3 separate regions of the Homo sapiens genome follow, and regions 1 and 2 are each linked to region 3. The links come from fine-mapping of genetic effects on gene expression. A gene starts in region 3. Each other region holds a variant in brackets. All regions are shown on one strand. Distances are from middle to middle. Region 1 overlaps CHLSN (cholesin). Region 2 overlaps CHLSN (cholesin). Region 3 holds the start of GPR146 (G protein-coupled receptor 146).

Evidence for each region. PIP is the estimated chance that this variant, and not a neighbour inherited with it, causes the effect. A credible set is the group of variants that fine-mapping cannot tell apart.
Region 1: its variant is the best candidate, but not a certain one, in a credible set for the expression of GPR146 in whole blood (TOPMed, PIP 0.56).
Region 2: its variant is the best candidate, but not a certain one, in a credible set for the expression of GPR146 in whole blood (TOPMed, PIP 0.90).

What each region holds. Positions count from the first base shown.
Region 1 is chr7:1,105,067-1,107,819 of GRCh38, forward strand. The region is part of intron 2 of CHLSN (cholesin); the gene reads right to left. Among named protein-coding and RNA genes, the nearest start is that of GPER1, 18 kb to the left of the region's middle. The variant C/T (reference allele first, on the strand shown) is at 1,271.
Region 2 is chr7:1,077,837-1,080,589 of GRCh38, forward strand. The region is part of intron 2 of CHLSN (cholesin); the gene reads right to left. It overlaps CHLSN-AS1 (CHLSN antisense RNA 1), which reads left to right. Exons shown (of 3, transcript NR_187853.1): 3 at 1-226. Among named protein-coding and RNA genes, the nearest start is that of GPER1, 8.9 kb to the right of the region's middle. The variant A/G (reference allele first, on the strand shown) is at 1,103.
Region 3 is chr7:1,042,919-1,045,671 of GRCh38, forward strand. It overlaps GPR146 (G protein-coupled receptor 146), which reads left to right and starts at 1,628. Exons shown (of 2, transcript NM_001303473.2): 1 at 1,628-1,740. The region is part of intron 2 of CHLSN (cholesin); the gene reads right to left. RefSeq lists an enhancer at 747-1,302 and silencers at 1,408-1,897, 2,078-2,127.

The DNA.
Region 1 (2,753 bases), 62 kb after region 3:
ACTATGTATCGCAATTTTATAAAAGAAAAATAGTTGTCATGAAGGAAGAGGTGTTACAATCCTGGGTAAAAGGGCCAGGGCAGGAGCATGGACAAGCCACAGGCTCTGGGCACCTCTGGAATAAAATCTCACTTCAGCTTAAAATACCAAACGTATACTGTGACCAGCAATTTCAATATGGTGACCAACTGACATGCCCTTCGAACGCCAAGAAGACAACAGCCCCAGAAACAGCTTCAGTCAGGAGACCCAGGGTGCTGGCCCGGTTCTGCCGCCGGCCGGCTGTGGAACAGGCTTCTGGAGCCCGAGGGTGACGCCCCAGCCTCTAAGAGCAGGTGCTTGAGAACAACAGGGGCTGCCTCATGGGGTGGCCTGTGGTTCAGTCTCAAAAGCAGCAAAGGAATCAATGAACTGTGAGACGCTGATCGTTACTCACTCCACAGATTACTGTGGTGACACTATGTGCAAAACCAGGAGGCCAGCCATGCTTTTAAAAATACTTAGAAAAAAAAATTACAAGCATGTGAAAATGTACCAAATATTTCTCTTTATTTTATTCATATTTTAAGACGAAGTCTCACTCTGTCGCCCAGGCTGGAAGGCAGCGGTGTGATCTCGGCTCACTGCAACCTCCGCCTCACGGGTTCAGGCAATTCTCCTGCCTCAGCCTCCTGAGTAGCTGAGATTACAGGCACACGCCACGCTTGGCTAACATTTCTCTTTCTAAATGTTTTCATGTTTTCTGTATTTTTCATAATGGGTGTGTTTTACTTTTAAAAAGAGGAGGAAAAGGCTTTGTTTTTAAAATTAAATTAAGAATGATATTAAAAGACCATGTATAAATCAAATCTATGCTGAGAGTTCGGCCGTGTCAGAAAGACGCGTCCATATCACAGGAACAGAGAGGAGCACACGGAGGGGAGAGGAGAGAGGTGAAGGGGCAGAGGGAGTTGCTTTCCTTGCTCAACTTTTCCTTGTATGATTTCGATGCTGTTTATTTAGGAAACGAACGGGAAATGCAGAGTGTTTCCAAGGCATGCATCATGCAGATGCTGCAGAAGTAGCTTCTACCCGCTGCTCACCGCTCCCATCCTCGAGTCCCGCACACTGCCCGGCCGAGCACTCAGCTGTCGGGCTCTGCCAGCCACGCGGACTCTCCACATGCGGATGCCACCACCAACTTGCCCAACAGAGACAGCCACCTGGTCCCTGCACAGACTCAAGGGTGTGTGTGTCTGGGCATCAGAGGGCCATCCAGACCCAGCCAGAG[C/T]GAAACCCCAGAGACACGTCCTTCCAGCGCTTCTGAGGGCCCCTGTGTTCTGGGTGCCGTGTGGGGGAGAGGACAGAGCCAAGAGAGGCCAGGACAGCGTGGCAGGGAGAGGATGCAGGAGGGGATCAACGTGGAGAGGGGCAGGCAGGGGCCAGACTCAGGCTGGAGGGGCCGAGAGCTTCCACAGAGTCTGCTGGCAGCATAGACGGATTGACACGTCAGGAGGAGCCCGGCCCACATGAGCAAAAAGGCAGGCAGGCGGGAGAACAGGTGCAGCCTGGTGAGGGTGACGGGCCTGGGGCAGGCAGAAGGGCCCCACTCAGGGTGTATTTCAAAGGTAGACAAGACAGGGCTTACTGGCTGTGGGGTGCGGCCAGAAAAGAAACCAGAGAAGATGCCGGTGCTGCCGGAGGGAATCCCTGGCTGTGCTCCCAGCTCCCAAAAGACCAACTGACCTCAAGTCTGAATCTGCCGCCCCCTTCCCTCCGTGCTGTTTCTGCAGTGGCGAAGGGCAGCTGGGCCAGGTGAACACACAAAGAGGAAGCCAAACCGTGGTGCAGAGCCAGGCCGGACAGAGGGATGTGGCTCCCTGCCCACCGTGACCACGGCCAGGAGCCCCCAACAGCAGGTCCTGCTGGGACTGCACCAGGCCACGGGGAAGCGCAGCCCTGCCAGCACCAGCCTCCTTGCCTGCCCGCCCAGCATCAGCTCTGCCTGGAAGGAACGCAGACTCGACTCCGGGAAGGAAGGAAGCTCAAATGCTCTGTACTGCAGGACCATGAAGAGAAGCGGGGAAGGGAAAGAGCCACAGAGGAAGCCATGTGTCCATGTGCACTGTGAGCAAGGCCAACACCCACCCGGAAAAACTGCCGCTTAGCCCTGTCTGCAACCCACTATCCCCAAGCTCAGTGGGCACTCCACAGCCCGCCTAGGAATGGGAGAGAGCCCATGATGCGCTCACAGACACCCAGCTATGCACGGGTCAACAAATACGGTCCCATCTGCAAAAAAGAGAGAAAACTGCCATTTACCAAGAACCCACTACACAGAAGCCAGTGACTGTGGAACCACCAACAGACATGACTCTGCCTCCTGCTTCTTAACCCAGGGAAGCTGGTAGCTTCTTCCCACTCTACAGAGAATAAGACCATGAGATGAAGGTTCTGTCTCCCAATCACAGAATTCGCCGTGGCTTCCAACACCATGCTGCCCACAAGCTGCAAAGCACATGCCAAAAGCTCAGTCAACAAGACAGAACTACTGGACAGGGCTCTGAACTCTTTTTGACAATCTTATGAACACTAGGGGTTCTCTCCCCACAACTGTACCACCGTGACGTACAGTCTGCAAGTTCTTCCCTGAATCCCACCAGTGGCCTGCAGGGAAGACCTTCCTGCACTGGAGCCCCACGCCCCGGGAGGAAGCAGAGGAGGGCTGTGTCCCACACTGGAGTCCTGCACCCCTGGAGGAAGCAGAGGAGGGC
Region 2 (2,753 bases), 35 kb after region 3:
GTGCCACGGCTGGCCTTGGGCAGAGGGAAATGCTTTGTGTACTTTCTCTGGGAAGCAGCAGCCCCAGCGCGGCCTCGGCGTCCTCTGCCGCCAACTGCTCCGTGACCGCTGGGCGTGTGTGCGGGGACATGGGAGCAACTTCACAGTGGTGGGAAGTTTCTCTCCTAAAACGAAAGCTTCTCTATACTACAGATTGGCCCCATTAAATAAAAGAAAATACGGTGTATTTTTACAGCGTTTGGGATTGGAAATGACTGAGATTCACGGTGGCTCTAGTCCTGTCTCCTGAAGACGGAGCTGGACGAGGTCTGCGGACAGTCAGAAAACACGTCAGGGTTTTGGCTCAGCTGCCAGATATGCAGCTATGGTGGGATTTCTGCGGCAGGGCAAGGAAGTGGAGACAGTTCGCGTGGCAGAGCACAGCGGGTGCCCTATAGTGGGCACGCCTGGAGAGCGTATATTTTCACAGGGCCCGAAACCTGAATGGAGGATTCTTTCCACCAGCTGCGGGGTGGGGGGGGGCTCAGGCACATCAGTTTTCCCACCCAGAAGACGAAGGCCTGCGAAGGGGGCCCCATGAGGCCTGGGAAGGGGGCCCCGTGAGACCTGGGGTTAAATCTTCCACAGCAAGCAGGGACCCCAGCCAGGCTCTGCACAAGGCAGGCGCTGCGCTCAGGTGGGAGTCCTGTGAGATGCTCCTGCACCCCACACTCCCGTGACCACAGGCGAGGCCTAACGCCCCCCACGCCGGTTCATCTCGTCTCCTCAAACTCCCACCAAGATGCTCACGACAGGGCCCAAATGCACTCCCGGGGGGTTGGCTAGTCTGCAGGATCACAGGCTGGCCCAGTGAAAACCTGGGCTTCGCTGCCTTACAACCATGCAGAACTCATAGCCAGGCCATGTGCCCACCTGCCCACTGGGACCCCGGGACAGTGCCTGCTCCAGACAGAGGCTGGGAGCTCTGTGAGGGGCACATGGAGTGAAGCAGAGCCTGCGGCTCACCTGTTTGGCTCTGGCTGGCCAGGTGCCCCCTCAAGCCCCAGCTCAGCCTTCCCCCAAACACTCAGCTCCATCCCCCACCCCAGCGGGTCAGGGCTCC[A/G]TCAAGACTGCTGGTGAATGGCCGGCTGAGGAGGCAGCGAGGCAGCGGGTCAGGGCTCTGTCAAGACTGCTGGTGAATGGCCGGCTGAGGAGGCAGCGAGGCAGCGGGTCAGGGCTCTGTCAAGACTGCTGGTGAATGGCCGGCTGAGGAGGCAGCGAGGCCTTTGGAGAGGGAGGGCCAGGGTCACAAGACCAGCAGGGCACAAAGGTGGCTACGGGAGGAGCAGGAAGTCAACAGCCGCAAACAAACCTCCCAAGCCACTCGAAGCTGACATCCGCAGGCCACAGGGACACACCTGAGGCTGCGGAGGGGCGGCCACAGACCTTCACAGCCATCCTGGGTCCCCAGGCAGGCAACGCCCGGCTGCTCGTCTGCTGTCCACCTCCCTATGGGGACACCTCAAATCACACGAGAATTGTGACCTCAAAAGCTTATGCTGCTTTTGCACAGAAACAGTGACGTGTGAACCATCCTGGGATGGTATGAAAGACAAGCGCAGGTCTGGAAAAGCAGTTCAGAAGCCACTCAACTGTCTACGCTGGGGAGACGGTTTCGTGAGCTACCACCACAGCCTATAACTACTTATCCATTAAAAATGATAATAAAACCCAGGAAGAGGCCGGGAAAACATTCAATAAACCAGCGTGCTGAGGGAATCTGCACAACCCCCCTCCCTGCCCAATGTAGACGTGTGACGGGAAGTGGCAGGGGCAGCAGCTCCTCTGAGGGGCCCCGTGGCAGGCAGGCCCTGGCGGGGGCTGGGAGGGCTCAGGGGCAGGGGTGACTCCCAGATGCCCTCCAGAGGGTCCAGGGCCCTGCAGGAGCCACCAGCCCTCACCACTGGAGTCCCCGGCCTCCCAGCTCTGGGGAAGCAGCCCTGGAGAAGTGGCGCCCATGCTTTCTAGAACCTCTCTGAAGGGTTGTTTAAGCAGCGAGGGCCCATGCTGCCGTCAAGAACACACAATTCTCAAGGTCCCGGCTTTGGGGAGTTCCCCCAGGCCCCGAACCTGACCTTGGCAGCCCCTCTGCGTGGCTCAGGAACGAGTCCCACAAGCCCCTGGCTCTTGGCCGGAAACCGGCCACCAAAACAGACTGTGAAGGGCCAACCCCTCCTCCCAGGGAATTCCAGGGCTCAGTAGGACCCTTTGCTTTCCCTGGGGTTAGAAGGACAGGTGCTGGCAGAAACGCAAAACAGAGTGGCCACTTTGGCAGCTTTGTATGAAGCTAAATGTGCACACACTGTAAGAACCAGCGATGCCCAATCCTAGCGATCCACCCAAAATAAAATTACGCTCACATGAAACCCTGTATGTGAACATTTAAAGCAGCTTTATAATAGACACAATCTGGAAAGAACTCAAATGTCGCTCCCACGATGGCGGGACACAGACCGCGGCACAGCCCCCCGTGCTCAGTGGCGAGCAGCCACGGCCACCTGGTGTGCACGACGTGACACACCATCTCAAGCGCAGGAGGCACGGGGACAGCCAGGCTCGGAGGCTGCACACGCACAGGTGCCACCCGCGTGACGGTCCGGGGAGTCTGATCACGGGAGCAGAGTGCAGCCGCACGGCCGCCAGGTTGGGTGGAGGGAGGGGCTGACCACCCAGGGACGGGCAGAGGAGTCTGGAACAGGACGGTTTGTGCGCTG
Region 3 (2,753 bases):
TGTGACCTGGGCTAAGTTGCTTAAGTTTTCACAATTAAATTTAAAATGCATGGCCGGGCACAGTGGCTCACACCTGTAATCCCAGCACTTTGGGAAGCCCAGGCAGGCGGATCACTTGAGGTCAGGAGTTCGAGACCAGCCGGACCAACATGGTGAAACCCCATCTCTACTACAAAAAAAAAAAAAAAAATTAGCTGGGCATGGTGGCACGCACCTGTAATCCCAGCTACTCAGGAGGCTGAGGCTGCAGTAAGCCAAGATCGTGTCATTGCACTCCAGCCTGGGCAACATGACAGAAACTCTGTCTTTAAAAAAAAAAAATATTAAAATGCACATGGTGACCTATCTCATTGACGCTAAGGCGTACTCTCACTTTATCATCTCTAATGTGAGGCTGCGCCTTAAAATCAGCAGTATGTCGGAATGCAGTGGGCAGAGGGCCTTCTTTTTAGTAATCCATAAAGTAATGGCATAGCTAACACTAATCAATCGTGTCTTAGGTTTGATGAAATACGGACGTATCTACCTCAAAACAATGGTTGAGGCTCAGAACAGAACCTGACACAGAATACGCCCTCAGGTATCGGTGTTGGCTGCTTGTGACTGACTTTGGCAAGTAAGATCAGTACCCGGCACCTCTGGGCACACAGGGCCCGGGCTGCATCCACTGTGCCAGGGACCTGGTGCCGGGCTGGGCAGCAAGTCAGTATCACATCAGCAGGCGTGGGCCGTGGTGAGCCTCTCCCTGCCCTCCCGCTGGAATAGAAAGCTGATCCCGACGTCCCACTCCGACCCACGGTCAGGAAGCCGTCCTGTCCAGGAAGGTGGCTGAGGTACATCCCTGAACACAGTAGGCCACAGCATCATGCAGCGGAGGGCCAGTGGCCGCTATTCTTCCTGCTGGTGTTCCACTCGGCCCGCAGCTCACAGCAAGTCTATGCGGAACTGTGCAACCCACATGCTTTGATTTTCAGAAATGTTCTTAGATCCTGAACCAGAATGTGCTGCAGGGGGGACTGTTTCACCTCAAAAATTACAGCAAAGTAAATGTCCTTGTTTCAACTTTTCCAATGTTTAACTTGTAACAATAGCTACAAAAGTAATCAGGCAGCAATGTGTTTCTTTAAACGGCTTTCCTGTGAGTGTTCCGTTTACAAAGAAAATCCTAAAACCAGGAAGTAATTGGTGACTTTGGAAACAGCAAGCAAACTTCGGTGAAGAAAGAGGGGCAGGTGTACCTGGAAGGACTAACTTGCAGCCACTCATTTCCTTTGGAGGGCGGTGGGGCCTGCACCCTGCAGATTAGGGTATATTCTGACTCAGCAAAATAGGCACCAGCGCCTGTAAAAAGAAACCGCGCTGGGCACTAAGAGAATTCTCAAAAACTCCCAGAGCCCTGGGTGTGTGTCCTCCCACAGGGAATCTCGCACGAGTTCGTCAAATGGCTGGTCTCAGGTTACACAACCAGCACTGCCTCCACCGCCACCGCCCCCCAACCTCACTGGTCCGAGCGGTTCCCCGCGGTCTAGCCGCGAGGGCGGGGCCGGGGGGCGGAGGCCAGGGCGGGACCAAGGCTGGGGGCGGGGCCAGGCATGGCTGCCGCTCGCCGGCCGGGGGCGGGGCCGACGGTCACGTGTGTACACAGGGCCCGGGCGGCGTGCGCGCCGTGAGCCCCGCCGCCTCCGCCAGCCCGAGCTGCCCGCCCGGCGGCGACTGCGCCGGCCGCCGCCCAGCAAGCCGGTGAGTGGGGCCCGGGAGCCTGGGTCGGGTCGGTGGGGCACACCCCAGTCTCCGCCTGGGGAGGGAGCCAGCCCCAAGCTGCTGTGGCTCCCACGGCGGGCGCTGCGCTTACTGGGACCCGGGTCCTCTGGCCGCTGCCCACTGCGGGGCTCCGTGCCCTTGCCAGGAGGGGACCGCTGTCCTCCGGCCGCGCTCCGAGCTGAGCCCCGGGGGCGGGCTTTCGGTCATTAACCTGGTGATGGCAGCTGAATCTGCTGCTGGCGTAGGCGGCACAGCGCCGCCACCGGCTCTCCCATGTCCGACAGGGCACCACTGATCCTGCTCTCCTGGGCCACTATGGTGACTGCTTTCGGCCCCTTCTGTGATTAGTATTTTAAAGTGAGTTTTGGATCTGTGTCTACATGGAGGTGTCGGATCTGCTGTCAGTTGTCTTGGACAGTTGGCAGGGCATGGGACGGCTCTTTCAAAGCTTCACTGGAAGGCAGTGCTCTCCAGCCGCCAAACCACCACTACCAGCAGCAGAAAACCCACTATTAAGTTAGTATTACAAACCTGGCAAGTCAGTTCTCTAAATTAGGCATAAGTCTATGAATCTTGATGTGACTGGTCACAGTGGCTTATCTCTGCATGCATGCTACGTGGTGGACCAGAGGATAATTCTGTATTCGTCGTCCACAGCCTTTGATCTCTTCCCTGCCCATGAAGATGTACTTGAGTCCTCCATTCCACTTTAAATAGCCAGCTCCTGTCCACACGGAACAGCACGACATCTTTTATCTTTTGCTACCTGCAGCACCTAGCAGAGGCCAGCATTCAATAACAGAGGGCCAAGAGGCTTGCTTTAAAGGCCTCTGCAAACTTGTATGAGTAAAATGGTTCTGACCATGTTCCCAGGCTCCTCACGCATAGTGGTGATGAGATAGTCTACCGTCCTAACTGGGGCACCGTTGAGAGTGAACGGAGGCACTGTTAATAATTAGACGAAGTGCACACTCACAGTACCCATGACCTGC